Regions from separate parts of the Homo sapiens genome. Here all the other regions are linked to region 4. The links come from fine-mapping of genetic effects on gene expression. A gene starts in region 4. Each other region holds a variant in brackets. All regions are shown on one strand. Distances are between the middles of the regions. Region 1 overlaps LITAF (lipopolysaccharide induced TNF factor). Region 2 overlaps LITAF (lipopolysaccharide induced TNF factor). Region 3 has its middle 26 kb from the start of LITAF. Region 4 holds the start of LITAF (lipopolysaccharide induced TNF factor).

Region 1 (8,041 bases), 40 kb before region 4:
CAGGCATTTTTCCCTCTTATGGAAAAAAATGATAAAATTAAAGACTTTCTGTGGCCCCAGTATGGCTGTGCCCAGGGATAGGTCGGCACTGATGCCTGGTGGCATCTTGAGAGTTCCTAATCCAGTTGATCTGGGGCATGGCATGGGCATGGAGCCTTTTAAATGTTCCCCCGGGGGATTGTTTTTTCATTGTTTTTTTTTTTAGAGCAAGGGCCTCACTCTGTTGCTCAGACTAGAGTGCAGTGGTGCGATCACGGCTCAGTGCAGCCTTGAACTCCTGGGCTCAAGCCATGCCCCTGCCTCAGCCTCCAGAGCAGCTGGGACCACAGGCACACACCACCACACCCAACTAATTTTATTTATTTATTTATTTATTTTGAGACAGAGTTTCGCTCTTGTTGCCCAGGCTGGAGTGCGATGGCGTGATCTTAGCTCACCACAACCTCCGCCTCCCGGGTTCAAGCGATTCTCCTGCCTCAGCCTCCCGAGTAGCTGGGATTACAGGCATGCACCACCATGCCCGGCTAATTTTGTGTTTTTAGTAGAGACGGGATTTCTCCATGTTGCTCAGGCTGATCTCAAACTCCCGACTGCAGGTGATCTATCCGCCTTGGCCTCCCAAAGTGTTGGGATTACAGGCATGAGCCACCACGCTCAAACTTAATTTTTAATTTTGTAGAGACAAGGTCTCACTATGTTGCCCAGGCTGGTCTTTAATTCCTGGGCTCCAGCAATCCTCCTGCCTTAGCCTCCCCAAAAGGCATGAAGCCACCGCATCCAGCCTCCCCCAGGGGATTCTAAGGTGCAGCGTGGGGTCTGAGGACAGTGGCCCTGGCCCTGTCGTACAGGATTCAGTAAGAATCTTTCCCATCTGGAATCATCCACCAGCAGCTGGACATAGCCGTGATTGACAAGGTCGGGAGGCCAGGCATGGTCCCCTCCACACTGCATAACAATGGAAGGAACAATCATTCCTACCCTTTAGTCCCTGAGATCAGTGAGGCAACAGTCATTTGTCTTCCCCCTGGGGGTCGTTGGCCTGAAAGTCCTTGCAGGACTCCAGGAGGACTGAAGGCTTCCAGGCCAGTGCAGCTCCGGGCAGCTTGGCCCCTTCCCCTTACGCTCCATGCACCCAGAGACACATACACATGTGGATGCACGCTCACACGGGGCCAGACACTCATAGACAGCTACGGAGACACCCGGAGCCCAGCTCACACACATGACAGACACCTAGGCCCTCCAACAAACACCCACAGACACACCCACACATACACAGACACACTCCTACATATCCCCCCATACACAGCCCCCAACACACACACACACACACACCTATAGAGACACCCAGACCACCCCCTCACATATACACATGTGGACACTATCTGCTCACTGATAAAGGCCTGAACGGATTTAAGACTTTAAGACAGAAGGCAGGCAGAACATAAAATGAGGAGGCCATTAAGTTAGACAAACAACTAATGCAGGGAAAGGCAAACCAATGTAACCACAAAGAAAACCTTCAGTGAAAATGGGAAGGCCAAGCACAGTGGCTCACGCCTGTAATCCCAGCACTTTGGGAGGCCAAGGCAGGAGGATCACTTAAGCCCAGGAGTTTGAGACCAGTCTGGGCAATATAGAAGACCCCAACTCTACACAAAATTTAAAAATTAGCTGAGTGTAGTGGCGTGTGCCTGTAATCCCAGCTACGCAGGAGGCTGAGGCAAGCGGATGGCTTGAACCCAGGACTTCCGAGACCAGCCTGAGCAACACAGTGAGACACTGTCTCTACAAAAAATAAGCCAGGCGTGGTGACATGCACTTGTAGTCCCAGCTACTCAGGAGGCTGAGGCAGGAGAATCGCTTGAACCCGAGAGGTGGAGGTTGCAGTGAGCCGAGATCATGCCACTGCACTCCAGCCTGGGTGACAAGAGTGAGACTTGGTCTCAATAAATGAATGAATGAATGAATGAATGAATGAACCATACAGGTAGAATTACCCTATAACCCAGCAATTGCATTCCTAGGTATACACCCAAGGGAACTGAAAACATATGTCCACACAGAAGCCTGTAAACAAATGTTCTCCGCGGCATTATTCACAATAGCCAAAAGGTAGAAACCACAGACGTTCATCGAGGGATGAGTGGATTAACCAATCGTGGTCTATCCACACAACGGAGTATGATTCACCCACAAAAAGGAATGAACCACTGGTCCATGCTACCATGTGGATGAACTTTGAAAATGTGATGCTCAGCAAAAGACGCCAGATGCAAAGATCACATATTCTATGATTCCATGGATATAGTATACCCACTATAGGTAAATCCATAGACAGAATGCAGACTGACGGGTGCCAGGGGTTGTGGAGAGGAGGGAATGGGGAGTGACTGCTAATGGGTTTGGGGTATTATTTTGGGCTGATGAAAATGTTTTGGAACCAGGTAGAAGTGATGGTTACATAGCACTGTGAATGTACTCAAAGCCACCTAATTATGTACTTTAACATTAGGTGAATTTTAGATGGAAAGAAGGAAGGAGAGAAGAGGAAGGGGGCAGAAATGTTGGCAGGGCAGCGCTAAGCCCACTGTTCACTCTTCCTAGGCAGGGTCGTGTTTTCTACCCCAATTGTACAATGGCTGCAACACAGCAGGAGTTAATCAATGATAAACAATGTCAAATCCACAGACACCAACCAGAGGCTTCCAGATGTTACCCTTCACACTTACTTTACACCGTGACCCCTCCCCCAAACACACACATCTATATATCCAAGTTTTACAAATAATACTCAGATCTATTATGAGTAATGCACTGTGACTTTTGATGAACCCATTAAGTTGATTTTGCCCATTTGGGAAACCGGCCAAGATCACTTAAGAGGCGCTGCAGTACTAAGAGCTTTAAGAATACTTAAATGCTGAGGCCAGGCACAGTGGCTCACATCTGTAATCCTAGCACTTTGGGAGGCCGAGGCAGGCGGATCACTTGAGGTCAGAGGCTTGAGACCAGCCTGGCCAACACGGCGAAACCCTGTCTCTACTAAAAATACAAAAATTAGCCTGGCGTGAGGGAGCGCACCTGTAGTCCCAGCTACTCAGGAGGCTGAGGCAGGAGAATCACTTGAGCCCTGGAGGAGGAGGTTGTAGTGAGCCAAGATTGTGCCACTGCACTCCAGCCTGGGCAACAGAGCGAGACTCCATCTCAAAAAAAAAAAAAAAAAAAAAAAAAAAGGAACAGAAAGGGAAAGAAAAGGAGAAAAGGTATTTAATTGGGAGAACATCTTTTTAATACTGCAGAGATCAGTTACAAGGTGGTGAGTTACATGCAGTAGACTCTATACGTGGTGGTGAGCTATTTATTTATTTATTTATTCATTTTAATCTGAGCTCCAGAATCTTATTTAAAATTCTTAGATTAAAAAAAAAAAAAAAGGCCAGGCACAGTGGCTCATGCCTGTAGTAATCCCAGGACTTTGGGAGGCCGAAGTGGGCAGGTCAGGAGTTCAAGACCAGCCTTGTTAACATGGCAAAACCTCATCTCTACTAAATATACAAAAATTAGCTGAGCACGGTGGCAGGCACCTGTAATCCCAGCTACTCGGGAGGCTGAGGCAGGAGAATCGCTTGAACCCAGGAGGTGGAGGCTGCAGTGAGCTGAGATCATGCCATTGCACTCTAGTCTGGGCGACATAGCGAGGCTCCCTCTCAAAAAAATAAAAAGCAAAACTATTCTTGATGTCTCTTTCATGGCCCTTGCTAGATCTACTTCCAATTCACTCATGTGCCTGCAAAAAAACAGGCGACTCACTGTAAACATTTGAGTCATACAGGGAGGAGAGGACCAAGGAACCAAAAGGCAAATCAGAATTCTGCAAGTAAAATTCCAACGTCTAGATTTACTCCTAACAGAAATCTTGAGCCCAGAAAGTCAGAGAAGGATTTTTAACATCCCAAACACGACAGGCTCTCACTGGGGAGAAAACTGAGGCCAAATGGTGTGCATATATGAAGCCATGTTTATAAATAGTTCAGTATCCAACAGAAGGGTTCTCGTTAGCAACTGGGAAGTCAGTTGTCCCAGAGAAAACATTTTCACGGGTAACACTGTGGTCAGCAAAGAATCCATCATATGCTTAAGTCTGGCTTCAAGAGATGCAGTAGCTGAATGATTTTGTTAAGCCACAAACCAACACTTCTTAGAAGGCCACCTCGCCTAGATGGACATAACAGAATATAAGATATACAGTCACTTTTGGTTTCAGATTGGTAAAATTCCTCTTTGCGGTCCAAGTAGGTAGGTATAAAGCCCTTTCATTAATTGAATGTGAACCAGTGTTTGCAAGAGACTCTCAAGTCCCCACCAAACAGTGGCAGAACAAAAGAGCCTTTTAATTTGATATGTAAGTCCATACTTCGAACAGTAAAATGGAATGTCCAATGAACACTTCACACTCCAGGCATCTGACATGAAAGTTCCGCATAAGACATGTTTTTACGATCCTGAAATAGGGCTCTTGTTTTGAAGACTTTGCATATGTAATTAATAATAGCTTGAGATCATGTACATGCCACCATCTGAGCCAAACTGCTAAATATGCATGGCCCCGAAACTACACAATCAAGATCTGGAAAGCAGCAGTTTTTCAAGACTGTAATTTAGGGTTTAAATGACAATTAAGCCACACCAAGATGACATTATTTCCTTGCATCTAGCAAAATGAAGCTGTATCATCAGGTAGCAAAGGACGGGGGAAGGCGGCATCCATATTCCT[G/A]ACATGTTACAATACCCTCCTTTTAGCATCTCACAAAGCATGTTTTGTTCAGAGAATGAATGGGGACAGTTCTCTTTTGTGCATTTTATTAAAACTTGAAAGCTATGGCTTGCCGCCATCAATGACGCCTATTGGGTTCCAATAGCCTCATGTTCAAATCTGACTCGTTAGCAAATCCACCCAACTCAACATCGGTCATCTTGACATTGCAGGATATTCAGCAAGTCTGAAGTTTTTAATCGGGAAGGATTTTCTACCGTTACTGAACAAATAAAGGTTCTTTGTAGCAATGGCTGGAAATGCAACATGAGCCCTTTCTTCACACCAAAAGAACTCATAAATAGTTCACCGGGTGAACCAAAGACTTTATTTTTCAAAAGCAGGTAACACCAAAGTACTATGTGGTATCCATATTCGTTGCAAAAATGATAATTACTGGAATTTTCCAAACATCAAATGAAGGGGGATCAATGGTTACCACTATCGTTTTCAACCAATATACAGATGTTCGCTCAAGGTCTAGGTTTTATTTCTACATAGTAGTATTCACATGAGTTCCCTATTCTGAAGTATTATCAAAACGAGGACCCTTGAAGGTCGAGCCCAGCTTTGTCTTGACTTCAAAGATGACACAGCAGCCAACCTAGAATCCTGGCTTGCTGCTTGAGTCCTAGAAATCATGTCTTCTCATGTTTTACAACAAGCTGTGTCTCTGAAAACTAAAATCAGACTTTAGATTCCTCTGAAACAGTTCTGGTTCCCAAGCATCCGCACCATGGTACCCAGACATGCTCAAAATGTGCTTTCCCTTATCTTTCAAAACCCACCACCAGGAAACCAAAACGGACCCCACTCTGAGAGTTCCATGATGAAGGTGTTTAAGAATCACATTAACCCCAAGTAAAGGCAGTAGATGAAATTATCCATTTCTTTTTCTTTTTTTTTTTTTTAAGTGAGACTACATTGGCAAATGGGAAAATGACACCAATCATTTGATTACAGAAAATGGTTTTATAAATCCTCCTCTTGAAATTATGTTCAGGCCCAGCATGGTAGCTTATGCCTGCAATCCCAGCACTTCGGGAGGCCAAGGCAGAAGGATCGCTTGAGCCCAGGAGTTCGACACCAGCCTGGGCAACATAGTAAGACCCCATCTCTGTTTTTTTTTAAAAAAAAGAAATTCTGTTCAAAAGTATTTCAGACCAAAAGGAGGTCATAAAAACTGTTCATATAATTACTCTATGAGAAAAAAATCCCTGTATGGAAAGGGGCACTGAAGATCTGGCACAGAGAAACAAGGGGAGACAGGGCAGTGATAAGATCCAGCCCTATTTTTCTAGCATGCATTTACGACCTTGTGGATATGTCTGTACTGGGTGTTAATAGCCCCCTCCTTGTATTTAAAAAAAAAATTAAGAAATTAAAGTGAATCTGTGTGCTAATGAAGTCTGCAGTTACAGAATCTCAAAGCCAAGCCTGTAAAGTCTGTAAGGCAAGATCTTTGTCATCAGGGACGGGAAGAGACGGATAAGATAATGGTAGGCACTAAAGGCTGGTTCAGCCGAGCTCTGGGCAGAACAGCCTCAAAAATAAGGCAACTGTGGCTTCTCAGTTTGAGACTGCCACCAGAAAGGCCCATGGAAGCAGGAAAAAAGAGCCACTGATGGCAGATCACAGGAAGATATTCGGATAGGGCAATGATCACAGTTAGATGGCAGGACTCAGGGTCTCAGGGAGGCAGGAAACCGTGGAACTGACACTCAAGGGGAATGTCTTTGCAAGTCCTATGCACGACTCCAAGCAGCAATTTCTGGGGTTTGGAGATTTGTTAGTTTTGCGACGTATTCCCCCCAAAAGAAGACATGAAGGTGGGCCCCCTGGAGAGGTGAGACCACCAGGGCAGAACCTCCACCAGGCGTGAAGCTGGATGAGAGGTGGAAAGGACTTCCTGCGGCACCCGGCTCCCTCCACGTCTGGCTGAGTCCTACAAACGCTTGTAGGTGCCCAGGAGAGCTCTGCAGTTGGGACAGTAATGGTCCACGTCCTGCAGGGCATCCACGCAGAAGGGGATGAAGCAGCAGCCCGCTATGCACCTGGGAGGAGAGAGAGACACACGGAGCGCGTTACTGATCACAACAGGGTGAACACTGGCTGCCAAAACCATGTTCATGTCCTTCTTTGTAAAAAGGGTCTTTGCCAGTATAATTAGGAATTTTGAGATGGGATCATCTTGGATTATCCAGGCGGACCCCTAAAACCCAATGACCTTAGAAGAAGAGGAGAGGACACACAGAGATACAGAGAGGGCAGAAGGAAATGTGAAGACAGAGGCAGAAGCTGGAGTGATGAGGCCATAAGCCAAGGACACCTGGACCTACTAGAAGCTGGAGGAGGCAAAAAATGATTCTCCCTGAAGCCTTAGGAGGGAGCGTGGCCCTGCTGACATTTTAGTTTTTGGTTTTGTTTTGTTTTGTTTTTGAGATGGAGTCTCGCTCTGTCGCCCAGGGTTCAAGCAATTCTCCCTCCTCCTGGGTTCAAGCAATTCTCCTGCCTCAGCCTCCTGAGTAGCTGGGATTGCAGGCGCATGCCACCAGGCCCAGCTAATTTTTTTATTATTAGGAGAGTTGGGGTTTCACCGTGTTGGCCAGGCTGGTCTCAAACTCCTGACCTCAAGTGATCCACCCGCCTTGGCCTCCCCAAGTGCTGGGATTACAGGCGAGAGCCACCACACCCGGCCCCTGCTGACATTTTGATTTTGCACTTCTGGCCTCTAGAATTGTGAGAGTTAATATCTGTTGTTTTAAACACTAGGTGTGTTGTAATTTGTGATGACACCCCTAGGAAATTAACATGCCAGCCAATGCCAAGGCTCCTCCTACAGACAGAGCCCCTTTGAGTATTATTTTCAAATCTGGGGTCATTTGGGAGTCTTTCAAAGTCTTAGATGGGCTTGGTGAACTTTTTTTGCAAAGGGACAGATAGTAGATCTTTTAGTCTTTTTGTTGCTGTGTTTTGTTTGTTTTTGTAGAGATGGGGTCTTGCTATGTTGCACAGGCTGGTCTTGAACTGCTGGCCTCAAGTGATCCTTCCACCTCCGCCTCCCAAATTGCTGGGATTACAGGTGGAAGCCACCACACACCCGGCCACATACTTTCATCCTGATGAGCCATGGCGTCTCTGTTGCAACTGCTCAACTCTGCCCTTGGAATGAGAAGACAGCCACAGAGAATCCAAAAACCAACAGGCGTGGCTGTGTTCCCGTAA
Region 2 (8,041 bases), 31 kb before region 4:
CCAGAAAGCTGTTTTGTCTCCTTCCTTCCTTATTTAACACATGACCTCAAGGAAGTTAACTAAACTCTCTGGGACTCTGAGCCTCTTATTGAAGTTAGGAAGAGAAATATTGTTCCTTCTCAACCTCAAGTCACCAAAGGACAATGTGGAGGAACGTGCCGGTTGCATGAGGCTCCTGAAACTCACAAACACCGTTTCCTTCAAGGAAAAGAATGGAGCCCCTTGGGGTTTTCTGAGTGGCTCACGTGGCCAGGTATAAGGAAGCTACTTTTACCTGCTTGGTGGGAAACAAAAAATTGATTGTGTTTCCTCAGATTTTTCTCCCAGAACAGAAACTGTTATCTCTTTAAACATAATACCTTTGGTGCAGACATAAAATTTATATAATTTCCCTGCATGGGCAATGGGAAAAATACTTCGGGTCATAAAAGGATAAGAAGTTTTGAAGCAATTCCTATGAAGAATTTTAATGTACAGATTCTTTAAAGCTTCCCTCGGGCTCGAGCAAAACATTATTATTTAGGTCATGAAATTCTAGAAGAAAAAGGAATCCCTGAGGATATTGCCCTGTACACAGCTGGAAGCAGCTGTGAAGCTTGTCCCTACATGCAGGGCGTGGTTTCAGCAGATAAGCAAGAAGAAAAGACGGAAGACCAATTTCTGGGGACGGATACGCTTAAGAGCAGCAGGGATGACTTGGCCTCCCAGGGGGCATTTTTGTTCAGAACACTGGGGAGCGTGGTGCTCCTAGCATTAAGCGGGTGGGGGCCAGGGATGCTATTCAATATCCTACAATGCACAGGACACCCCCTACAATAAAGAAATGTCTTGGGCCAGGCATGATGGCCCACACCTGTAATCCCAGCACTTTGGGAGGCTGAGGCGGGTGGACCACCTGAGGTCAGGAGTTCGAGACCAGCCTGGCCAACATGGTGAGACCCTATCTCTACTAAAAGTACAAAATATTAGCCGGGCCTGACGGTGCACACCTGTAATCCCAGCTACTCAGGAGGCTGAGGCAGGAGAATAGCTTGAACCTGGGAGGCGGAGGTTGCAGTGAGCCGGGATCGTGCTACTGCACTCCAGCCTGGGCAACAGAGTGAGAATCCATCACAAAAAAAGAAAGAAATGCCTTAGGCCAGGCACAGTGGCTCACACCTGTAACCCCAGCAGTTTGGGAGGCCAAGGTGGGCAGATCACCTGAGGTCAGGAGTTTGAGACCAGCCTGGCCAAGATGGTGAAATGCCAGCTCTACTAAAAATAAGCTGGGCGTGGTTGTGCACCCCTATAATCCCAGCTACACGGGACGCTAAGGCAGGAGAATCGTTTGAACCTGAGCAGTGGGGGTTACAGTGAGCCGAGATCGCCCCACTGTACTCCAGCCTGGGCGACAGAACCAGATTCCATCTCAAAAAAAAACAACACAAATGTCTGGCCCTGAATGTCAAGCATGGTGCAGTTGAGAACCCACCCCCGCCAGCACCCAGAGAGAAGGGCAGGATGGCTTGGGGCCAAGTGGGAGGCAGACTCACCCCAGCAGGCACAGGCTCCCGCAGGACAGCCAGGTCAGAGCACCGGCGTTATAGGACAGCTGACTCACGATCATCTTGTTGCAGGAAGGACAACACATTTGGATAGGGCGGTCCAAAAAGGTGATGGGGTGCTGCACGTAGACCGTCTGCACGGTAACTGATGAAAGGGAGAGGGACAAACACAGGTTGCTCAGGAAACAAGGCCAATAGCATTCACTACAGGACAAAGAGAGGAACGCAGGGATGCCAGCAAATATTATATTTGTACATTTGTGTTCATAGCATGCGTTCATCGTCTGGCTATCTATGAGAGCCAAAAGGGGAAGGAACACCAGTGTCCATCGACGGACCAATAAACTAACACAGCGAAGTTTATCCATCCACCAGAATATGATTCAGCCTCAAAAAGAAAGGAGGACCGGGCGCGGTAGCTCATGCCTGTAATCCCAACACTTTGGGAGGCCGAGGTGGGAGGACTGCTTGAGCCTAGGAGTTTGAGATCAGCCTAGGCAACATGACAAGACCTCATCTCTACAAAAAAATATAAAAATTAGCCCAGCGTGGGAGTACACGCCTGTAGTCCCAGCTACTCAGGAGGCTGAGGTGGGAGGATCAGTTGAGTCTGAGAGATTGAGGATGCAGTGAATCATGATTGCGCCACTGCTCTCCAGCCTGGACAACAGAGCGACGCTCAGTCCCAAAAACAAATAAATAAATTTTAACCAGCCTCACACTGTGCCTAGCAGCTCTTGATAAATAATCCACTCTCTTTACACAAACCCTTTGATAAACTCTGACAGCCAATGATAAGGGTAGAGTTTACCAAGCCAGGAAACGCAGGCCAACTCTGTAAGACAACAAGCTAGTGAACTGTGTTGATACAAGAAATGAAAATATAAAATAATGCTAGGAAGAAAAAGCTATGTGAAAACATGTTCGAACATTCTCAAGAATCAGAAGAGAATCCAGGCCGGGCACGGTGGCTCACACCTGTAATCCCAGCAAATCCCTTGGCTTTGGGAGGCCGAGGTGCGTGGATCACCAGAGGTCAGGAGTTCAAGACCAGCCTGGCCAACATGGTGAAACCCTGTTTCTAAAGACAAAAATTAGCCGGGCATGATGGCACGTGCCTGTAGTCCCAGCTACTTGGGAGGCTGAGGCAGGAGAATTGCTTGAACTTGGGAGGCAGAGGTTGCAGTGAGCCGAGATTATGCCACTGCACTCCAGCCTGGGCAACAGAACAAGACTCTACCTCAAAAAAAAAAAAAAAAAAAAAAAGAGAGAACCCAGGGTGATGAAAATCATCAAGCACTTCAGTTGTTAAGCTCATATTTTTGTTAAAGCAACTTCCTTCTGTTCCTTTTTACGTTAGAATGTCATTTATATAACAAATGAATTAGGGGGAAATTACTGCCTAGAGTTAACTGAACTTAGTAATACTCATAGAAAGACCCTCCTTCCAGAAAAGTAGTATTAAATCATACTTTAGCACTTA[C/T]GTGTAATTTTTTTTTGGCAGGGGGGACAAGGTCTTGTTGTGTTGCCCAGGCTGGAGTGCAGGGGTACAATCATAGCTCACTGCAGCCTCAACCTCCTGGGCTTAAGCAATCCTCCCACCTCAGCCTCCCAAGTAGCTGGGACTACAGGTACAAGCCATCACACTCAGCTAATTTTATTTTCATAGAGACAATGTCTCACTATGTCACTCAGGCTGGTTTGGAACTCCTGGCCTCAGGTGATCCTCCTGCCTCAGCCTCCTCAGTAGCTAGGATTACAGGCGCAAGCCACCACACCCTGTTCATACATTTTATTAAGTGTTTTTGGGGTTCAAGAATAAGTTATTTGGACCAGGCTCTGTGACTCATGCTGATAATTCTAACACTTTGGGAGGCCAAGGGAGGTGGGAAGATCGTTTGAGCTCAGGAGTTAAAGATCAGCCTGGAAAAACAGTGAGACCCGATTTACACAAAAATTTAAAAATTAGCCAGGTGTGGTGCTGTATGCCTGTAGTCTCAGCTATTCCAGAGACTGAAGTGGGAGGATCACTTGAGCCCAGGAGGTCCAGGCTATAGCGAGCCATGACTGCACCACTGCACTCCAACCTGGGCAACATGGTGAGACCCTGTCTCAAAAAAAAAAAAAAAGAAAAAGAAAAAGAAACTATTTATTGATCACAGGATGGTCTAAGAATCTAAAGTCATTATCTCATCCTCTTCCAGCTCAAAATAACTTGAACACAACAATAAGAGTTCACTTTTATCAAACGAGTACTCTGTATTTGGCACACACAACTTCCTCTCATGTTAACAACTCACTGATATTTATAAATAGGTACTTGATGAAACCTATTTTACAAATGGGGAAGCTGAGGCACAAGGAGGTTATGTGAACCCAGGCAGTCTGATTCACGGGCCCCCTCTCTGAGCTAAAGATTTCTTTCAGAACTACCTGTGATACTAAAGCAGTGACATACCAGGGCACCCTTGGGCGGAAGGAAGCACCAAAGGACAGGGACCATCTAGTTGCTCAAAAGCAGAAGAGCAACTTGCATTGAGGGTGAGCTGGTATGAAAACACAATCACACATTGCTCAGGACGGTTTCTTCTCCTCCCTATTCCTACCTCGGCCCTGGCCTCAGGGCAGAAGTTCTGCATCAGACCTCAGGAGGAAGTGTGCGGGCCCTTAAGACACAAACTCCCATTCTCAGAAGAAAGTTGGTTGTGCCTCCAAGAGATGTGCCAAAAGATTCGTATATGATGACCATGGGAAAGATCCTAAACCATACTTTATTACGGAAAAGCTGTGAGCCTCACCAACATGGAATCTAAAAGACTGCGTGTGGAATTTCAAGGTAAGGGGGTAAAACTGGAACGTACTGGCACTTCACTTAGACTCTTTGGCAGAGTCACTTCGGTCACTCTCCTGATTCCCAGGGTGGAGGGCCAAGGAATGGTAAGGGGGGCCTGGGAGGCCACACGTACTTGGATTGTTATTGGGGATGGGCGCTGGCTGGGTATAATACGAAGGAGGATTCATGCCCTTCCCATCAGGCCCCGTCACAAGCCCCGTAGTTGGCCCAGGCATGGGAGCTGGAGGTGTGGGGTAATAACTGTTAACAGCCACTGTCTCTTCATAGGATGGAGGTGCGGATGGTGCTGAGGAAGGCCCAGTGGCCGCCTGGTAAGGTCCTGGAACCGACATTTTACCTAAAACAGAAACAGAACATACCAGATAAGAAATTCAGTTGATCTCTCCCTCTCTTTTTCACCTAAGTCTTCAATTTTCTTTCTGGCAAACAGAAATTCTGAGAAAATGACTTCCATCCAGCTTTGTCCAAAAGCTAGGAAGAGGGTTAATGTCCCTTCAAGACCCCAGAATTAATCAAAAAGTAAATAATTACTACCCAAAATCACCAAAACCTGGAAAATCCAAAGTGGAAACATCAACCAAATAAGGGTCATTTCTTCTTCACATCTTAAACCATTACCAGACAATGACCTACGTACCTTCCATATCTGGTGTTTCTTCTTCGTTGTTTTTTTTTGTTTGTTTTTTTGTGGTTTTTTTGGTTTTTAAACCACTGTGGTTTTCACTAACTGTTTCAGGTAACGGAAAAGATAAAGGCATTCAAAAACCAACCACAAATTATCACAAATAGCAAAGGGGCCAGATGCCACAAAATGCACACTGTATGATGCTATTTAAATAAAGGTCAGAAATAGGCAAAATGAATCCATGGAGCGGTTACTCTTGGAAGAGGAAGAAGAATCTGGAAAGGGGTATGAGGGGGCCTTTGCGGGGGGCGGGTCCTGTTCTCTTTCTTCACCTGGGGGCTGGTTACAGAGGTATGTTCAGTCTGTAAAAATCTCAGTTGTACAATTAAAATGTATATACTTTTTTGTATGTGTGTTATAGTTTTGTTTTTTGTTTTGTTTTATTTTTTTGAGACAAGATCTGTCACCCAGGCTACAGTGCAGTGGTGTGATCTCAGCTCACTGCAGCCTCCACCACCCAGGCTCAGGTGATCTTCCTGCCTCAGCCTCCCAGGTAGCTGGGACTACAGGCATGTGCCCCCCCGCCCGGCTAATGTTTTCATTTTTTGTAGAGATGGGGGTCTCACTTTGCTATCTAGGCTGGTCTTGTACTCCTGGGGGCAAGTGAACCTCCCGCCTTGGCTTCCCAATGTGCTGGGATTAAAGGCATGAGCCACCGCGCCCAGCCTCTGTGTTATAGCTTTTTAAGAAGGAAATACACATAGACTCCAGTTCTCATTTTGAAAAATGAGCACCAGAGCAGCCAGGCACACATTTTCTTTTGTGAGGGCAAAGAAAGGATTTCCCTCCAGCCCTGGCAGAGCTGCTGCTCGCCTAGAATTACACCCTGCACCCAGAGTGTGCTCCTGTCTGATGTTCCATGATCCAGCAGCCATGGGGCAGCTGGAAGCAGACACAGTGCTGTTCTTTGTGTGGCTGTTTTTCTAACTGGGCAGGGTTCAGGCTGCCTTAGAAGAGCCATTCAAACCTGTCTCGGGAGAAATGGGAAATGAGGCTCCGGGGCAGCGAGCCACAACCACCACTCCCCTCTCCCGACACTGTCTGCCTCATTTTCTAGAACTCGTGGGAAGCCAAGGCAGCAATTAATCCCACTGCAGGGAGAAGGGTAGAGTCCTTCTCAGAAGCCCTGCCTCTAAACCAAGCCCCAAAGAGGAGACTTCTCTGGAGGAACCGAAGAAAGGGTATTCACCTCAAAGTGGAAACAGAGACCAGGTGCGGTGGCTCACCTGTAATCCCAGCACTCTGTGGAGCCGAGGTGGCAGGATAGCCTGAGCCCAGGATCTCAAGACTAACCTGGGCAACATGGTGAGACCCCCATCTCTAAAACAAAACAAAACAAAAGGGCTGGGTGCAGTGGCTCATGCCTGTAATCCCAGTACTTTGGGAGGTTGAGGCAGGAGGATCACTTGAGCCCAGGAATTCACCACCAGCCTGGGCAACATAGTGAGACCCTGTCTCTACAACGAATAAAAAAAGTAGCCAGGTGTAGTGGCACACACCTGTAATCCCAGCTACTTAGGAGGCTGAGGCAGGAGGATTGCTTAATCCTAGGAGGTTGAGGCTGCAGTGAGCCATGATCACTCCACTGCACTCCAGCCTGGGAAACAGAGCGAGACTCTGTCTCAAAAACAAACAAACGAAACAAAGTGGAATAGAGGCGGGGGAGTGAACGTGATAAAAAGAAAGTCAGTAAGTAAAGATAGGTTGGGGCTGCATTCTAGAAAACTTTGAAAGTCCCTTGGAGAACACGTGTTCAAGACTTCTTTCTATCAGAGTGCTGTCCAACAGAATCTTCTGTGAGGATGGAAATGCTCTGTATCTGCTGCCCAATATAGCAGCCACCAGTCACGTAAGGTTATTGGGCGTCTAAAATGTGGCTTGTGGCCGGGCACGGGGGCTCATGACTGCAATCCCAGCACTTTGGGAGGTCGAGGCAGTGGGATTACTTGAGCCCAGGAGTTCAAGACCAGCCTAGACAACATAGTGATACCCTCTCTCTACAAAATTTTAAAAATTAAAAAAATTAGCCAGGCATGGTGTTGCACACTTCTGGTCCCAGCTACCCAGGAGGCTGAGGTAGGAGGATCACTTGAGCCTAGCAGGTGGAGGCTACAGTGAGCCATGATCATGCCACTGCACTCTAGCCTGGGTGACAGAGCGACACTCTATGTCTAAAAGAAAAAAAGAAATGAGCTAGTGTGAGTGAAGAACTGAATTTTTTTTGTTTTAGCTTCTTTTTCATCTTTTTACTTGCCAATGAATTTTTACTTGTATTTAAGTTTAAGCAATTTAAATGTGAAAACTAACAATTCAATTATTGGGAAGCTTTTATGTAAGTCTGGGACAACTTGAATATATGAATCATTTTTTCAATGGTAAATTTGATGAACACTGAATATAGATCAAAATGTTTTTTGATAAAAATTTAGCATTCAATTTGGGATAGAATGTCAATGTAAAAATACACCCTGGGTTTCAAAACTTAGTAGGAAAAAATGAATGTAAAATATCTCATTAATAATTTCTTATATTGATATATTAAAATGACCACAGCTTAGATATATGAAGTTAAGTAAAATGTATTGTTAATTTCACCTGTTTCTTTGTACCTTTCAAAATGTGGCTACTAGGCCGGGCATGGTGGCTTACACCTGTCATCCCAGCACTTTGGGAGGCTGAGGCAGGAGGATGGCTTGAGCCCAGGCATTCTAGATCAGCCTGAGCAACATAGGGAGACACTGTCTCTACAAAAAAATTAAAAATTAGCCAGACATGGTGGTGCACCCCTGTGGTCCCAGCTACTTGGGAGGCTGAGGTGGGAGAATCACTTAAACCCAGGAGTTCAAGTGAGCCGTGACTGCGCCACTGCACTCCAGCCTGGGCGAGACTGTCTCAAAAATAAATAAATAAAAACAAAATAAATAAAAAAGAGGCCAGACACAGTGGCTCACGACTATA
Region 3 (6,386 bases), 25 kb after region 4:
TCCTGACCTCAAGTGATCCACCCGTCTCGGCCTCCCAAAGCGCTGGAATTACAGGCGTGAGCCACCGTGCCCGGCCTGAATGGTATGCTTTAAATGGGTGAATTGTCCGGTATGTAAATTACGTATCCAAAACACTCTTGGAAAAAAGAAAAAGGGATAAAGGGAGCAAAGGATTCAGGCTGCAGGACTGGCTGTGCCACTTCCCGGCTGCGTGACCGTGAGCAAGTTACTTCACCTCCCAGAGCCTCAGAGGCCCCCATCTGCTACGGTTGAGAGATGCCTGCTGTTCAAGGGACCGTAAACATTTGTCCCTGGCATGCCTCCTTCCTGCCCACTTCTCCCTCACACTCCAGAAGCCTCCAGAATGTCTGCTGCAGGAATGGGGCAATTCCTTGAAATCCAAACGGAAAAGACCAGGCTTTCCTGGCCAGTGATGGAAACAAATTTTCACTGTCGTCCAAGGCCTGGATGCTGAAATCACACCCCACCTTCTCTCTCCAGGCCCAGAGGTCCCCGCCTGTCATTTACAGTTTCAAGGCACCAAATGACCCCAATGATTTGCAAAGGATTCCCTATGGCCACCAATCTCTGCAGCCTTCAATCCTCCCCACCCTAGTCCCCACTGCTCCTGATGGCTTTGGGGGGCCTCAGGGAAGCACAGAGAAGCTGGGACTCACCCTGCAAAATAATCCAGCCCAGGAGGACTGGGTGGTGGGGGGACCCCATAAAGAAGCAAGTGTGTGAGCAGCTCCTCCGCACACAATGGCCCCTCAGAAACCTGTCCCAGGGGAAAACAGGGGATCTCTATCGGCAATCCCTAAGAAAGAAATGTCTGTCTTCTTTCAGGACCTGCCCCCGCAGGCTCCAGGCCAAGAATGTCCGGCAAGGGGTCTATTAAGTTTCTAAAATTATGCCTAGGTTGGAGGGTTGGTGGGGGTGAGGATCGGGAAAGGACGTGGCGGTCGGGCAGGCAGGAAATCTTTATTCTGGTCCTTCAAGCCCCAGCCTGCACGCTGGGCAGTGGGAAGGGAGTGGAGAGTCCCTCCAGCAGATATCAGGATGGCTTGAGAATCAAAAGCTCTGTGCACATGGCTTGGCAGCTCAGTTGTCTTCAGACATTGCCACAGTGCCTTCCCAGAGTGCTCAGGTTTTCCCCCGAGCAAGGGAACAATGGGATGGAGCCCAACTTGAGCAGTAAATAAGAGGAAAAAAACCATCGCCCAGTGGTCATAATCTAGAAGTGGAAACAGGGTTGCTGTGTTGGGTTGTGCAGGTTGCGCACTGCACAAATGCAGGGGGCACTCTTCTCAAGTATGGAGTCATGCTTTGTACAACTCAGACAACCATTCAAGGCAACCTGTAATGTACCAGAAGGGGGACCAGCTGGCTCATGGGAGCAAGCCTTCACTCTTGGGTGGGGCTGGGGAAATGTGAATCAGTGGCCAATTTGTACATGGAAGACGGAACAAGACCTCACGACAGTGTCAGTCCTAATTGAAACACTTAGGACCCCTCTCCCCCAGCTACCGAAATCTAAGGGGTAGGAGGAGGGAGGAAAAGTCAAGGAGAAGGCGCCTAAAAATCTATGAGTCGTCCTACCTCCCAGATACGGTTTCCAGAAAAAAATACAGTACATGGCTAGGCATGGTGGCTCATGTCTCAGCACTTTGGGAGGCTGAAGCAGGAGGATCACTTGAGGCCAGGAGTTCAAGACCAGCCTAGGCAAAAATAGTGAGACAAAAAAAAAAATTTTTAATTAGCCAGGCGTGGTGGCACAAGCCTGTAGTCCCAGCAACTCGGGAGGCTGAGCTGGGAGGATGAATTGAGCCCAGGAGTTCGAGGCTGCAATGAGCCACGATCACCCCCCTACACTCCAGCCTGGGCAACAGAACGAGACCCTGTCTGCAAAACATATATATAGGATGCCCAGTTAAACTCAAATGTCAGAGAAACAGTGAATACTTTTTTAGCAAGTCCTAAATACAGCATGGGATATACTTATACTAAAAAATCATTTGTTGTTTCTCTGACATTTGAATTTAACCAGGCATCCTGCATTTTTATTTACTAAATCTAGCAGCCTTTCCCCTAGAGGACATCCCTATAACAATACTTTTTACCACCTACTATTGCCTGGAAATGGCTACTAAATTGCAGCCAATTGGGAGCAAATTTCCTCCAAGCATTTTTCTATCTTTTTTTTCTTTCTTTCTTTTCTTTTTCTTTTTCTTTTTTTTTTTTTTAAGACAGAGTCTCCCTCTGTCACCCAGGCTGGAGTGCAGTGGTGCGATCTCGCCTCACTGCAATCTCCACCTCTCGGGTTCAAGTGATTCTCCTGCCTCAGCCTCCTGAGTAGCTGGGATTACAGGTGTGCGCCACCATGCCTGGATAGTTTTTTTGTATTTTTAGTAGAAACAGGGTTTCACCATGTTGTCCAGGCTGGTCTCAAACTCCTGACCTCAGGTGATTCGCCCACCTCGGCCTCCCAAAGTGCTGGGATGACAGGTGTGAGCCGCTGCGCCTGGCCCTCCCATTTCGACTGTTGTGGGGTCCCACAGGATATGGAGTGTGACAACAACCCCCATCCAACGCAACTTAATGGCTTCCTTCTTCCTTCTTCCCCTCGGGGCTCGGAAATCACCACTCGCCTGGCAAAGAGGGTTATGTGGGTGCCCACACAGCCATGTCACTGAGAGGGTGGAAACAGGGTCTCAAAGTCCAAGGATCTCCTGGCACTGCCCACACCGCCAAAGCTCAGGACAGCCAACCATGTGCCAGGTTTGCTCAGCCCAGATCTAAAACGGGGGTCTCTCCAGTGAGTCAGACCAGGTCATTTCCCAGCCCAGGGACTCTGTGACTCCTGGGAGCCGCAGCAGGCTTTGGCTGCACCGTCCTCATCATTCTTGTGAAAAGGGGCCACCTGGGGGGCAGCCTGGAGGGTTGGTGAAGAGGTGTCTCCCTCCCTGGCTTGGCCTGGGCTCTCTGGAAGGCAGGTGAAGAATGAGGAAGGAAGGGCCTTATTGGGCAACTCCCAGCAGGTTTCTGTGGGAACGGCTGTCTGACCTCGTGTGGGTCACCTGCGGTTAGAGCAAACTGCACTGCATGCGGCCAGCGGGCGGCCAGGGCCGGCCCAGCTCAGGACGCTCACGTGCACAGAGAACCTGGATGGAAAGTTAACAAGGCCCAGGCAGGAGCCCTCGCAGAGACAGCAGACCTTCCCACCCCACTCCCAGCCCAGAACTGGCCACCCACTTCCCCACCCCATTCTCCCCTGACATCTCTGTTTGTCCACGTCCTTGAGAAGGGCGGAGGGACGAGGACAGACTGAAAAGAGATGTTTGGAGGATGAGTCCGCCCTCTTGGGGAATGATTTCACTGTGGAACCAAGCTTGGTTACACCAGAAGCTCTTGGGCACCATCTCAGGGACTCCCATGGCTCCTGAAGACTTGTGGGAACCCTGTGTCCCCCTAGAATCTTGACCTCCCAACCCTGCAAAAGCTGTCATCTTGGGGCACAGCCGATGGCCTGGGTGCCTCTTGATGGGCAAGGCCAGCCATTCAGGTGCTTCACTCTAGGTTTTTCTTTGGATTTTTTTTTATTTGTTTTTTGGGGTTTGTTTTAGATGGAGTTTCGCTCTGTTGCCCAGGCTGGAGTGCAGTGGTACAATGTCGACTCACTGTAACCTCCATCTCCTGGGTTCAAGCGATTCTCCTGCCTCATCCTCCCGAGTAGCTGGGACTACAGGCACCTACCACCACGCCTGGCTAGTTTTTGTATTTTTAGTAGAGATGGGGTTTCACCATGTTGACCAGGCTGGTCTCGAACGCCTGACCTCAAGATCACTCTAGTTTTTGTTTCCACTTCTGGATCCCCATGGGATGGAGAGAGACGGGACACTCGCATTGACAGAGAGACCAGACCTCCTGGGTCACCTGGGGGAATAAGCAATGCAGCCAGCTGCCAGGTCCCAGGGCTGCCTTCTCCTGACCATCTGGGCAATTCAGACACAGCTGGGTCTGAGGTGCCAGAGTGTGTTGTTCCGCCTGTTTAGACCTGCCCCACCTCGAAGACATCGGTGATTCACAATCTTCCCTAGAACGGACAACTCCTGGAGGGTGGGGCCCCTGCTGATTCAAACTGGGCTCCTATGAAAGCTCCCAGAGGGTGAGGGCAGTCAGGGAAGGCTTCCAGGAGGAAGTGGCTCTTGTTGAAGGCTAAGCCAGAGTTAGGTGGGAGAGGAGCAGGAAAGGTGTCCTTACAGGGAGCACAGCCGGACGGAGGGTGTGGCGTGTGCCGGCTAGGCAGTTCACACTGGTGGAACCGAGGGCACAGAGGTGG[C/T]TGGGGCAAAGCCCAGACAGAAAGGACATCTCAGAAATGAGGATCTGTACTCCGAGAGCCGGCCTCACCCTGCCACATGTTGTCAGATGACCGGGCGGGCCACTTCTCTCGCTGAATGTTTATTTCCTTATCTCTAAAACGGAACTGACAGTTGAGATCAACGCCTGTGTTCTGTGGGGTCCCTCTGCTTCCTGGCAGGTCCTGAGATTTGGACACTTGCACATGACTCATTCATTCCCAGCAACACCAGTCAACAGTGGAGCCGTTGTGCCCATTGTACAGACGGGGCAGCTGAGGCTTGTGCAGGCTCAGAAGGATGTCCTAGTCTCTCTCACTCTCCTTTCTCCCTCCTACGGATGCTGTGACAAATGACCACAAACTAGGTGGCTTAAAACAACAGAAACTGATTGTCACAGTTCTGGAGGCTAGAAGTCTGAAATCAAGATGTCAGCGGGCTGGTCCTTCTGGAGGCCTTCTCCTTCTCCTTCTCCTTCTTCTTTCCTCTTCTTTCTTTTTCTTTTCTTTTTTTTTTTTTTTTCTTGAGACAGAGTCTCACTCTGTCACCCAGGCTGGAGTGCAGTGGCACAATCTTGGCTCACTGCAACCTCCACCTCCCAGGTTCAAGCAATTTTCCTGCCTCAGCCTCCCAAGTAGCTGGGATTATAGGCACACACCACCAGGCCCGGCTAATTTTTGTATTTTTAGTAGAGATGGGGTTTCACCATGTTGGCCAGGCTGGTCTCGAACTCCTGACCTCAAGTGACCTGCCTGCCTTGGCCTCCCAAAGTGCTGGGATTACAGGCATGAGCCACTGTGCCCAGGCTTTTTCTGGTTTTTTTTTAAGATGGGGTCTTACTCTGTCACCCAGACTGGAATGCAATGGCACAACTTCAGCTCACTGCAACCTCCACCTCCAGGGCTCGAGATCCTCCCATCTTGGCCTTCCAGAGTGCTGGAATCACAAGTATGAATCAGTGTGCCCGGACTGTTTTCACCTTTCAGCTGTTACAAATATCTTCTTACTTCCTCTGATATGCCTACTAGAAAATTTAAACTTGCCCAGTGGCATGCATTACCCTGCAGCTGGACCAGCTCTGTTCTAGACGGCAGGCAGTTCTAACGGCAGGGAGTCAGTTCAGTGATTGTCATGACAGCGAATGCATGGCTTCCAGGACCCTGTGGCCCGCTGTCAGATGGGGCCGGGTCTGAGTGCCTCACTCACAGCTGCTTCTCCAGCACCCAGCCCAGCAGCTGGCACGGGGTGGATGACCAGTCGGTACACACTGGGAGAATGAATGAATGAACAAAGGAAGGAAGGAGAGACCAAGCTGGGGCTCTAGGAGAAAACGAGGCAGGAAAGTCCCAGGGGACAGTGGCTGAGGAAAGAACAGAGATCCCAGGAAGAAAAGCGACACCCAGAGCCCCATCTACCCTGGGGTGTAAATGGCATGGGCAACAACTCAGAGGAAAAGTAAAGACCTTGGGTGCGGTGGCTCACGCCTGTAATCCCAGCACCTTGGGAGGCTGAGGCAGGTGGATCACCTGAGGTCAGGAGTTCAAGACCAGCCTGGTCAACATGGCGAAACCCCGTCTCTACTAAAAATACAAAAATTAGCCTGGCATGGTGGTGCATGCCTGTAATCCCACCTACTCAGGAGGCTGAGGCAGGAGAATCGCTTGAACCTGGGAGGTGGAGGTTGCGGTGAGCCGAGATCACACCATTGCACTGCAGCCGGGGCAAAAAGAGTGAAACTCCGTCTCAATAAATAAATAAATAGCCAGGTGTGGTGGTGCATGCCTGTAATCCCAGCTACTCAGGAGGTGGAGGTTGCAGTGAACCGAGATTGCACCACTGCACTCCAGCCTGGGAGACAGAGTGAGACTATGTCTTTAAAAATAAATAAATAACTAAAATAAAATAATAAAAAAAGAAAAGTGAAGACCTATGTGGTATAATAAAAAGTATCTGCTTGGTCTTTGTTCCCTGTCACTGGTTCCTGGCACAGAGCTGCCAAAGCCCTTGGACCCTCCTCAGTGATTAGAGTAT
Region 4 (8,041 bases):
GACAAATCACAGTGATTTGTGGAATGGAAAATGCTTCCATCGGGGAGTTGGGCTGCTCCCCCACAATCAGAGTGGGCAGTTTTCCTCTGGACTCCTGGTGAAACCACATCCCTAGTTTCCACGTGAATCACAGTTTTTCATCAAACAGTGCAAGGAGATCATTAATAAGACTGAGACTGCATTAGGATACAAAATTGTATGAACGCTGATGACAATTTCATAGAAAACAGGCACAAAGACAAAAGACAGAAGCCGCCCGATAAGGACAGCCAGTGGTAGTTGTTTCGTTCTATAAGATTATGCCTTTCTTCTTTATCTTCCACACTTTAATATTTTTTAATAAAAAATTTCAAACTATCAGTGCATCATCTAGGAATAACCTCATGGATTCAAGTTTAAGGCAAGACATCATTAAGCTCTTAAACTTACCTGAGGCACACTGTCAATTAAATCTAAGGCTCCATGAGCTAAATAGCTTAAATTCTCCAACATTATTTTCTCTGAAGCCTCCAGCTTTGGATCCTGGTATATAAACTCCTACCTACTGCGAGGTGAGCAGAGAATTACCATCACATAGACACCCTCCAGAATGGTTCCTTTCTTGTGTCCATGCCTTAAGCTCTATGAAATTACACAATTCTTCTACTGAAATAACCTGCAGCCAAGGGACAACTTCATTAGCTACAAAGCTGTTGTCACCTGTGTCCAGAGTGTCAATCAATACAGGCTCAAACAACAAGATGAAATTATGAGGACCCTGGAAAATGCCACTTGACCTCAAATAACAATTCTTAGGCAAGTAAACATCAATCAAATTCAGAACAGACCATGGGTGGCCAAACAGACCCGGGAGACGTCAAAAATATGTGTGCTAAAGAAACACAGAACTAAGGAAGTCTATTTACCTGATAGACCGCCTCACCCACGGGGCTATTTTCACTGCTGTAAAAGCGAAAACAAATAGAGGACAAGTCACAGTGCCAAGAATACAGGACTTCCTCTTGCAGATCCTCTTTTTTCCACCCTCACTGTAGCTCTGGGGAAATTCCTATTCAGTGGGAGAAGTTTAAGTCACAAAACGGCACCAGCCCATTCTCAAAGTGCTATTATACACCTCTGAGCAGTGAGGATGGGTAATGTCAGCAAAATATGCACTGTTTATTTTCTTGAAAATTAACTTGGGCTGGAAACGCCTTCCAGCTCCTTCCTCTCAGTGGATTTTCCATTTACTGTCTTCAACCACCTGGGCTTGTCTGTACCTCTTCCACAGCTCTACTGAGACCCTCCTGTTTGTCTGAACTATGTCCTCATGTTCCTTCTGCCACATGTGCTCAGGCCTCAGTTTTTCCATGAAACTTTCTCTAACTTAGCTGCCTCCTTTCCACTGTTCTCAAGCCCTTTCTGGAGTTACAAGGGCATTAGCAAGCACCAGCTTTTTCGCCGGTGTGTGTTTCTACTTTCTACCCATTGCGTAAACCCCTCAGGACCAGGAGCCATTCTTCTGCATCCTTTACACGGCAAGGGTAGCGCTTTATTTCTCAACAGCCCGCCCATAAAAGGAACGGAAGTAACAAAGGGAAATGTATTCCCCAAAGACAGTGAATTACACTTCAATCTACTATTTTAGAGACTTAAGAAATGGGCCGGGTGAGGTAGTTCACACCTGTAATCCCAGCATTTTGGGAGGCCAAGGCAGGTGGATCACTAGAGGTCAGAAGTTCGAAAACAGCCTGGCCAACATGGCAAAACTCTGTCTCTACTAAAAATGCAAAAATTACCTAAGCATGGTGGCACCCAACTGTAATCCCCGCTACTTGGGAGGTTGAGACACTAGAATTGCTTGAACTCAGGCAGGGGGTTGAGGTGGGGTGGGGAGGGTTAGAGGTTGCAGTGAGCCGAGATCGCACCACTGCACTCCAGCCTAGGCGACAGTGAGACTCTGTCTCAAAAAAAAAAAAAAAAAAGAAAGAAATTGATCCTACGTCTTAGATCAATCACCCAGTCACTTAATCTGTGAAAACATTACAAGATACTTTCTCAAATGTGAATAAATGCATCAATTATTCATGCCTTAAAGTAACAGGAAAGAGGGAGATGGGCCTCCCTCATGGTAGATTACAATTAAATGTTTCTTAGAGAGTTTGGTGCACATTTAGTTCCCAGAGCAAGGGCTGGTGGAGAAGAAAGCCAAGTGCAATATGGGTGTTACTCTATGCCAGGTAAAGCAAGTCACACGCCATCTAGATCCTGCTCCAACTGATAAAACCAAAACACTGGTGGAATTCCAGATACCAGCCTGCACTTCTCTCTGTAGGCATCTGGGTTAGTCCTAAATAGGAAGTCCTAAAAAGAGTCACTCTGAGAAGGCAGGGGGTGAGAGGGCAGATGAAGCAGCCAAGCACACATTAAGGCAAATCATGGCTTTCCTAAAGAGGACCCCAAGCTGGGCTTCAGACAGTCTTTGAACCAGCACCAGTGCACCAGGCCAAGGGGAGGGAGGCATCCTCTTTGGGAAGACTGGTAGGAGCTTGGAAGACCCCGTGGCTTCCACAAACTGTAGATTTCCCAGTGACCACTGCTCAGTCCAACAGCCAGTGACATCAGCTCCACTGTCGGGAAGTAGAAAACCAGTGAAGGTCCAACTAGCCTGGTCCCTGAAGCATGACTGGCCCTTCCAGAACATACACCTTTCCCCTATCACCTCCTCTCCCTGACCCCGAAGAGCTTCGGGCACACCACCAACTGACCACCTATCCACAGTGACCTGCAAACCAGAGCGGGGAGGGTATTTGCCTAGCTTGGCAGGGAGGGGCGAGATCCACTTCTGCCACCAGTCACCAGCTGGTCCCACCAGCACCTACCCAGCACCGGCGGTGGACGGTGAGCGGCGTCTGGGCCCAGAGCTGGGTGCCATCAGCAGTAAGAGGACCCCTGCGCTCGCGGGGTGCCCGCCTTACCCCGCGGGGAGGGGTCAGGCCTAGGGGCCACGGCCCGCTTCGCTCTCTGATTTTCACCTCCCCAGGGTCTCCCAGGGGCCTCGGGTGTCCTTCCCGGATCTTGCGCGAAGTCGCGGGGGCAGGGAGAGAAACGCGGGTACCCGCGCCCCTAGAAGTCAAATGTTTGGCAAATAGCATTTGGGAATTCGTTGGGGTTTTTTTGTTTGTTTTGGTTTTGTTTCTGAACCCCCGGGGGATATTTCTGGAAATCTCAACCTGAGTCACTAGAGAGAATCGCGCCTTTTTCTAAAAAGCCCAGGGGCCGTCCTCTCCGGGGAGGGGGACGCGGCGGGCCGCGAAGGGCGCTCGTTCGGGTGGGGGCCGGACGACCCCGCCACGCGCGATCGGGCCACTCTGGGACGCAGGAGCTGAACCCAACCGGAGACGCGGCCGGGACCAGCGCTGGGAGGCCGGACCCCGCCCCGGCCGGGCCCCCACGCCCTCCGCCGCGCCTCGATGCCCGCGACCCGACCCGCGCCCCCTGGCATCCCAGGAGGCCCCAGCCAAGGGCTCAGTGCCCGGGGCCCCCAGCAGGTGCTGGCGCCACCGGCCCCCCGCTGTCTCCCGCTGGTCCCCGCGCCCCGGCGTCCCCGCGCCGCACTCACCGCCGCCCGCGCCGCCTGTCGAGCCGGGAGGTCTGAGCTGGCCTCTCGGGCGCCCCGAGAAAAGGGCCGGGCGGCGGGGACGGGGGCGGGGGCTGGACCCGCCGGGGCGGAGCGCGGCCGGCTTGGGCTTCCGGCTTCTCCCGCCCCCGCGGCCCGCACCTGGGCCCCAGGCGAGACCACCGCCGGTTCCCCGCCTCACTCTGATCGCCCCCAGGCTCCATCCCACACCCGGCTCGCTCGCCACCCCAGAGCTTCCCAGGCTTACCCCCGAGACGCCTGGCGCGGACCTGGTGTCTCCCCCACTCTCCTATCCTGCCCCTGCCTCTCGGTGCCAGCCCCACCCGTCCGCCCCCGACAGCCTGGCCCTCCCTCCTGATTTGCCGCTCGCGGCTCTCCCCACTTTCCCCCCTCCCCGCGCCGCTCCACCACTTCCAGGCGGCGGGACCACCAACCTCGACCCCGGACCCGCGCTGGGGCGCTCCCGGCCCTCTGGAGGGCGGCCCTTCTCTTCCTGTAACTCTACAGACGCGTCCGGACAGACCAAGACACTCTCTGTGCCTTCGGGCATGTTACCCATCCTCTCTGAGCTCGGCTTCCTGTCTGCAAAATGGGCACAATAGCGGTCCTGTCTCCTAAGACCGACTGGGAGTGAACTGGGAAGATGGTAAAGTTTTTAGCACAGGATAGGTATTAGGTAAGGCTTATCAGCTGCCTGTCCGCTTTGTGCCCCCAGGGTGGTCCGTGCCGCCAGGTAGGCCTTTCTCAGCCATCACTGAAAGCAAGCTCTGGAAATCAGTAGCCCCATTTCACATCCGCCCCTAAATGGGTGCCATCTGCCCGTCTGCTTGGAGCCCCATCGGCCGGCTGCAGTGATAACAGCAGCAGCCTGGATCCAGCAGGCTCTCTGGGAAATCATTAGAGGGAATTAAGAAGCATGCCTGGCTTTCAGAGTACACAGAGTCAGGAGATGGGCAGAACCATGATGTGGCCATCCACAAACAAACGCCATTTGGACAGGGAGCTTCCGAGCCCCATGCTGGCAAAGACCTGGATCTTAGAACCCTCCGGTGCCCAAATCCCATGCCTTTACCCGAGGTCCTAAAGATAGTGAGGCCCAGATAGGGAGTGTGGCTTGTCCCGGGTCCCTCAGCAAAGTGTCCCCAGCCCCAAGTTCTTGCCACCTTGCGCCATGTCCACTGACGGGCCACCCTCAGCCGTGGACGAGTTACCAAGTTGGAAGGGATTTCAAAGTTCTCCCAAGCATAGGAGGTTCCCATGTAGATGTTATTAGTGTGGGCAACATTTTACTGCTTTTAAAATATGAAGGGGGCGGGTGCAGTGGCTCTTGCCTATAGTCTCAGGACTTTGGGAGGCCATGGCCAGAGGATCTCTTGAGCCCAGGAGTTCAAGGCCAGGCTGGACAACATAGTGAGACTCCATCTCTATAAAAATTTTTTTAATTAAAAGAATAATAATAAAGCGGTGGAGTGGTGGCATGTGCCAGCTACTCAGGAGGCTGAGGTGGGAGGATTCCTTGACCTCCGGAGGTTGAGGCTGTAGTGAGCTATAATCGAGCCACTGCACTGTAGCAAGCAAGCAACAAAGAAAGAAAGAGGGAAAGAGGGAAAAGAGAAAGAAAAAAAAAAGAAAGAAAAAGAAGAAAGAAAGAGAAAGAAAGAAAGGGAAAAGAAAGAGAAGGAAAGAAGGAAGGGAGGGAGGGAGGGAGAAGAGAAGAACAGGAAATTGGATTACACCCAACCTCTGCCATTCCTCCATTCTCAGGATGCAACCAAGGCTTGCAAAGGTACCAATTATTATACTGACATTAAGACAGAATATCACAGACCATTGCTAGGGAGACATAACACCTAGGGAAAATCTCTCAGAGATAACGTTCAAGAAACATCCCTGTATGAATGCTTTTCTTCCTTCCTTCCTTTCTGTCTCTCCCTCCCTCCCAACCTTTTCTCCTTCCTTCCTTCCTTCCTTCCTCCCTTCCTCCTTTCCTCCCTTCCTCGCTTCCTCCCTTCCTTCCTGTAAAAAGCAGTAGTAAGCCTGAATTTTCTTCTGTCCTTTACTGAATACTACCACATCTTCATTTGTTTTTCTTTCCCCAACTGCTGAGCAGCAACAGGAGCCAGCTTTGTGTTTTTATCCATCCTAAACACTTACCACGGCTGTGAGCTTGCAATTATTTATGGGGAGAGCTATAAGACTGTAACTCTTTTCTTTGATCCCCAAAAAACCACAGAGATTGAATTTCCAACCCAAGGCTTCCAACCAGGGGGTAAAAGTAAACTGGGCCACGTGATCATCTCAATAGACGGAAAAAGCATTTGAAGAAATCCAATAATGCTTTCATGATTAAAAAAATAATAATAAACTAGAAATAGAAGGGAACTTCCTCAACCTTAGGGCTTCTATGAAAATCCCAGAGCTAATGACACACTTAATGGTAAAAGACTGGAAGTTTTACCCCTAAGAACAGGAACAAGCCAAAGTGCCCACTCTGGCCACCTCTGTCCAACATTGTCCTGGAGGTTCTGGCCATTGCCATTAGGCAAGAAAAATAAAAGCATCCAGATTGAAAAGGATAAAGTGAAGCTATCTCTATTCACAGGTGATATGATCCTATATGTAAGAACCCTAAAGAATGTACTAAATACCTATTAGAGCTAATAAACCAGTTCAGCAAAGTTGTGGGATTTAAGATTAACATACAAAAATCAGTTGCTTTTTTTTTTTTTTTTTTTTCGAGACAGGGTCTCTGTCACCCAGGCTGCAGTACAGTGGCTCGATCACAGCTCACTGCAGCCTTGACCTCCTGAGCTCAGGCGATCCTCCCACCTCAGCCTCCTCAGTAGCTGGGACTACAGGCATGTACCACTGTGCCCAGCTAGTTTTTTTTTGTAATTTTTTGTAGAGATAGGGCTTTGCTATGTTGCCCAGACTGGTCTCAAACTCCTGGGCTCAAGCCATCCACCTGCCTGGGCCTCCCAAAGTGCTGGGATTACAGGTGTGAGGCACCACACCCAGCCAGTTGCATTTCTATATACTAGCAATGAGCAATCCAAAAATGAAATTAAGAAAATGGCTCCATTTACAATAGCCTCAAAAGGATAGAAGCTGGGTATGGTGGCACACACCTGTAGTCCCAGCTACTCAAGAGGCTGAGGCAGAAGGATCCCCTTGAGCATGAGAGTTTGAATCTAGCCTGGGCAACATAGCGAGACCCCATCTCTAAAAAAAAAAAAAAGAGAGAGAGAGAATGTAATACTTAGGAAAACGCTTAACTAAGGAAGTTCAAACAAGACCTATACACTGAAAACTACAAAACATTGCTGAAAGAAATTAAAGAAAACTAAATAAATGGAAAGACATTCATGGACCAGAAGATTTAATATAGTTAAAGTGGTATATCAGTCAGAAATCTTTCAAAGAAAGAGAGAGGAGATATATACATATATAGATGGTACCAGACTTAATGATGGTTCAATTATGATTTTTTGACTTTATGATGGTGATACACATTCAAAAGAAACCGTACTTCAAGTACCCTTACAACCATTCTGTTTTTAACTTTTAGTATAGTATTCAGTAAATTACATGAGATATTCAATACTTTGTGATAAAGTATTGAATTAAGTAAAGGAGACCGTCTCCTTTACCTGAAGTCAACTAAAATAAACCACATCTGCAAAATACTTTTACAGCAACATCTAGATTGGTGTTTAATTGAATAACTGGGTACTATAGGCTAGCCACGTTGATGTGTAAAAGTAATGATCACAAATGGCAATACTTCCCAAACTGATGTACGGGTCCAATGTAATCTCTGTTTTTGTTGTTGTTGTTTTGTGTTTTTGAGATAGAGTCTCGTTCTGTTGCCCAGGCTGGAGTGCAGTGGTACGATCTCGGCTCACCGCAAACTCTGCCTCCTGGTTTCAAGCGATTCTCCTGCCTCAGCCTCTCGAGTAGCTGGGACTACAGGTGTGCACCACCAAGCCTGGCTAATTTTTGTATTTTTAGTAGAGACAGAGTTTCATCGTGTTGGCCAGGCTGGTCTCGAACTCCTGGACTCAAGTGATCCACCTGCCTCGGCCTTCCAAATTGCTGGGCTTTCAAGTGTGAGCCACCGTGCCCGGCCCAGGTCCAATGTAATCTCTATCAAAATTCCAGCTGCCTTTTTTGGCAAAAATAGACAAGCTGATCCTAAAATTAATATGGAATTACAAGGGATTTCAAATAGCCAAAACAATCTTGAAAAATAACAAAGTTGGAGGATCCACTGTTTCTGTTTTTTACACTTTGTTTTTGAGACAGAGTCTTATTCTGTTGCCCATTCTGGGATGTAGTAGTGCCATCATAGCTCACTGCAGCCTCAAACTCCTGGGCTCAAGCGATCCCTCCCACCTCAGCCTCCAGAGTGGCTGGGACTAC

Evidence for each region. PIP is the estimated chance that this variant, and not a neighbour inherited with it, causes the effect. A credible set is the group of variants that fine-mapping cannot tell apart.
Region 1: its variant is the best candidate, but not a certain one, in a credible set for the expression of LITAF in whole blood (TOPMed, PIP 0.79).
Region 2: its variant is the best candidate, but not a certain one, in a credible set for the expression of LITAF in whole blood (INTERVAL, PIP 0.60).
Region 3: its variant is the best candidate, but not a certain one, in a credible set for the expression of LITAF in whole blood (INTERVAL, PIP 0.74).

What each region holds. Positions count from the first base shown.
Region 1 is chr16:11,542,876-11,550,916 of GRCh38, forward strand. It overlaps LITAF (lipopolysaccharide induced TNF factor), which reads right to left. Exons shown (of 4, transcript NM_001136472.2): 4 at 4,847-6,870. The coding sequence ends at 6,762. Among named protein-coding and RNA genes, the nearest start is that of LITAF, 40 kb to the right of the region's middle. RefSeq lists an enhancer at 679-1,494. The variant G/A (reference allele first, on the strand shown) is at 4,778.
Region 2 is chr16:11,552,001-11,560,041 of GRCh38, forward strand. LITAF (lipopolysaccharide induced TNF factor) reads right to left here. Exons shown (of 4, transcript NM_001136472.2): 2 at 4,511-4,735; 3 at 1,533-1,689. The coding sequence starts at 4,730. Among named protein-coding and RNA genes, the nearest start is that of LITAF, 31 kb to the right of the region's middle. The variant C/T (reference allele first, on the strand shown) is at 3,028.
Region 3 is chr16:11,609,438-11,615,823 of GRCh38, forward strand. It overlaps a transcript of LITAF not described here. Among named protein-coding and RNA genes, the nearest start is that of LITAF, 26 kb to the left of the region's middle. RefSeq lists enhancers at 4,339-4,388, 4,356-4,650, 4,549-4,758, 4,894-5,501, 5,502-6,109 and a silencer at 5,573-5,746. The variant C/T (reference allele first, on the strand shown) is at 4,340.
Region 4 is chr16:11,583,285-11,591,325 of GRCh38, forward strand. LITAF (lipopolysaccharide induced TNF factor) reads right to left here and starts at 3,635. Exons shown (of 4, transcript NM_001136472.2): 1 at 3,602-3,635. RefSeq lists an enhancer at 2,389-2,498 and silencers at 3,399-3,478, 3,509-3,988.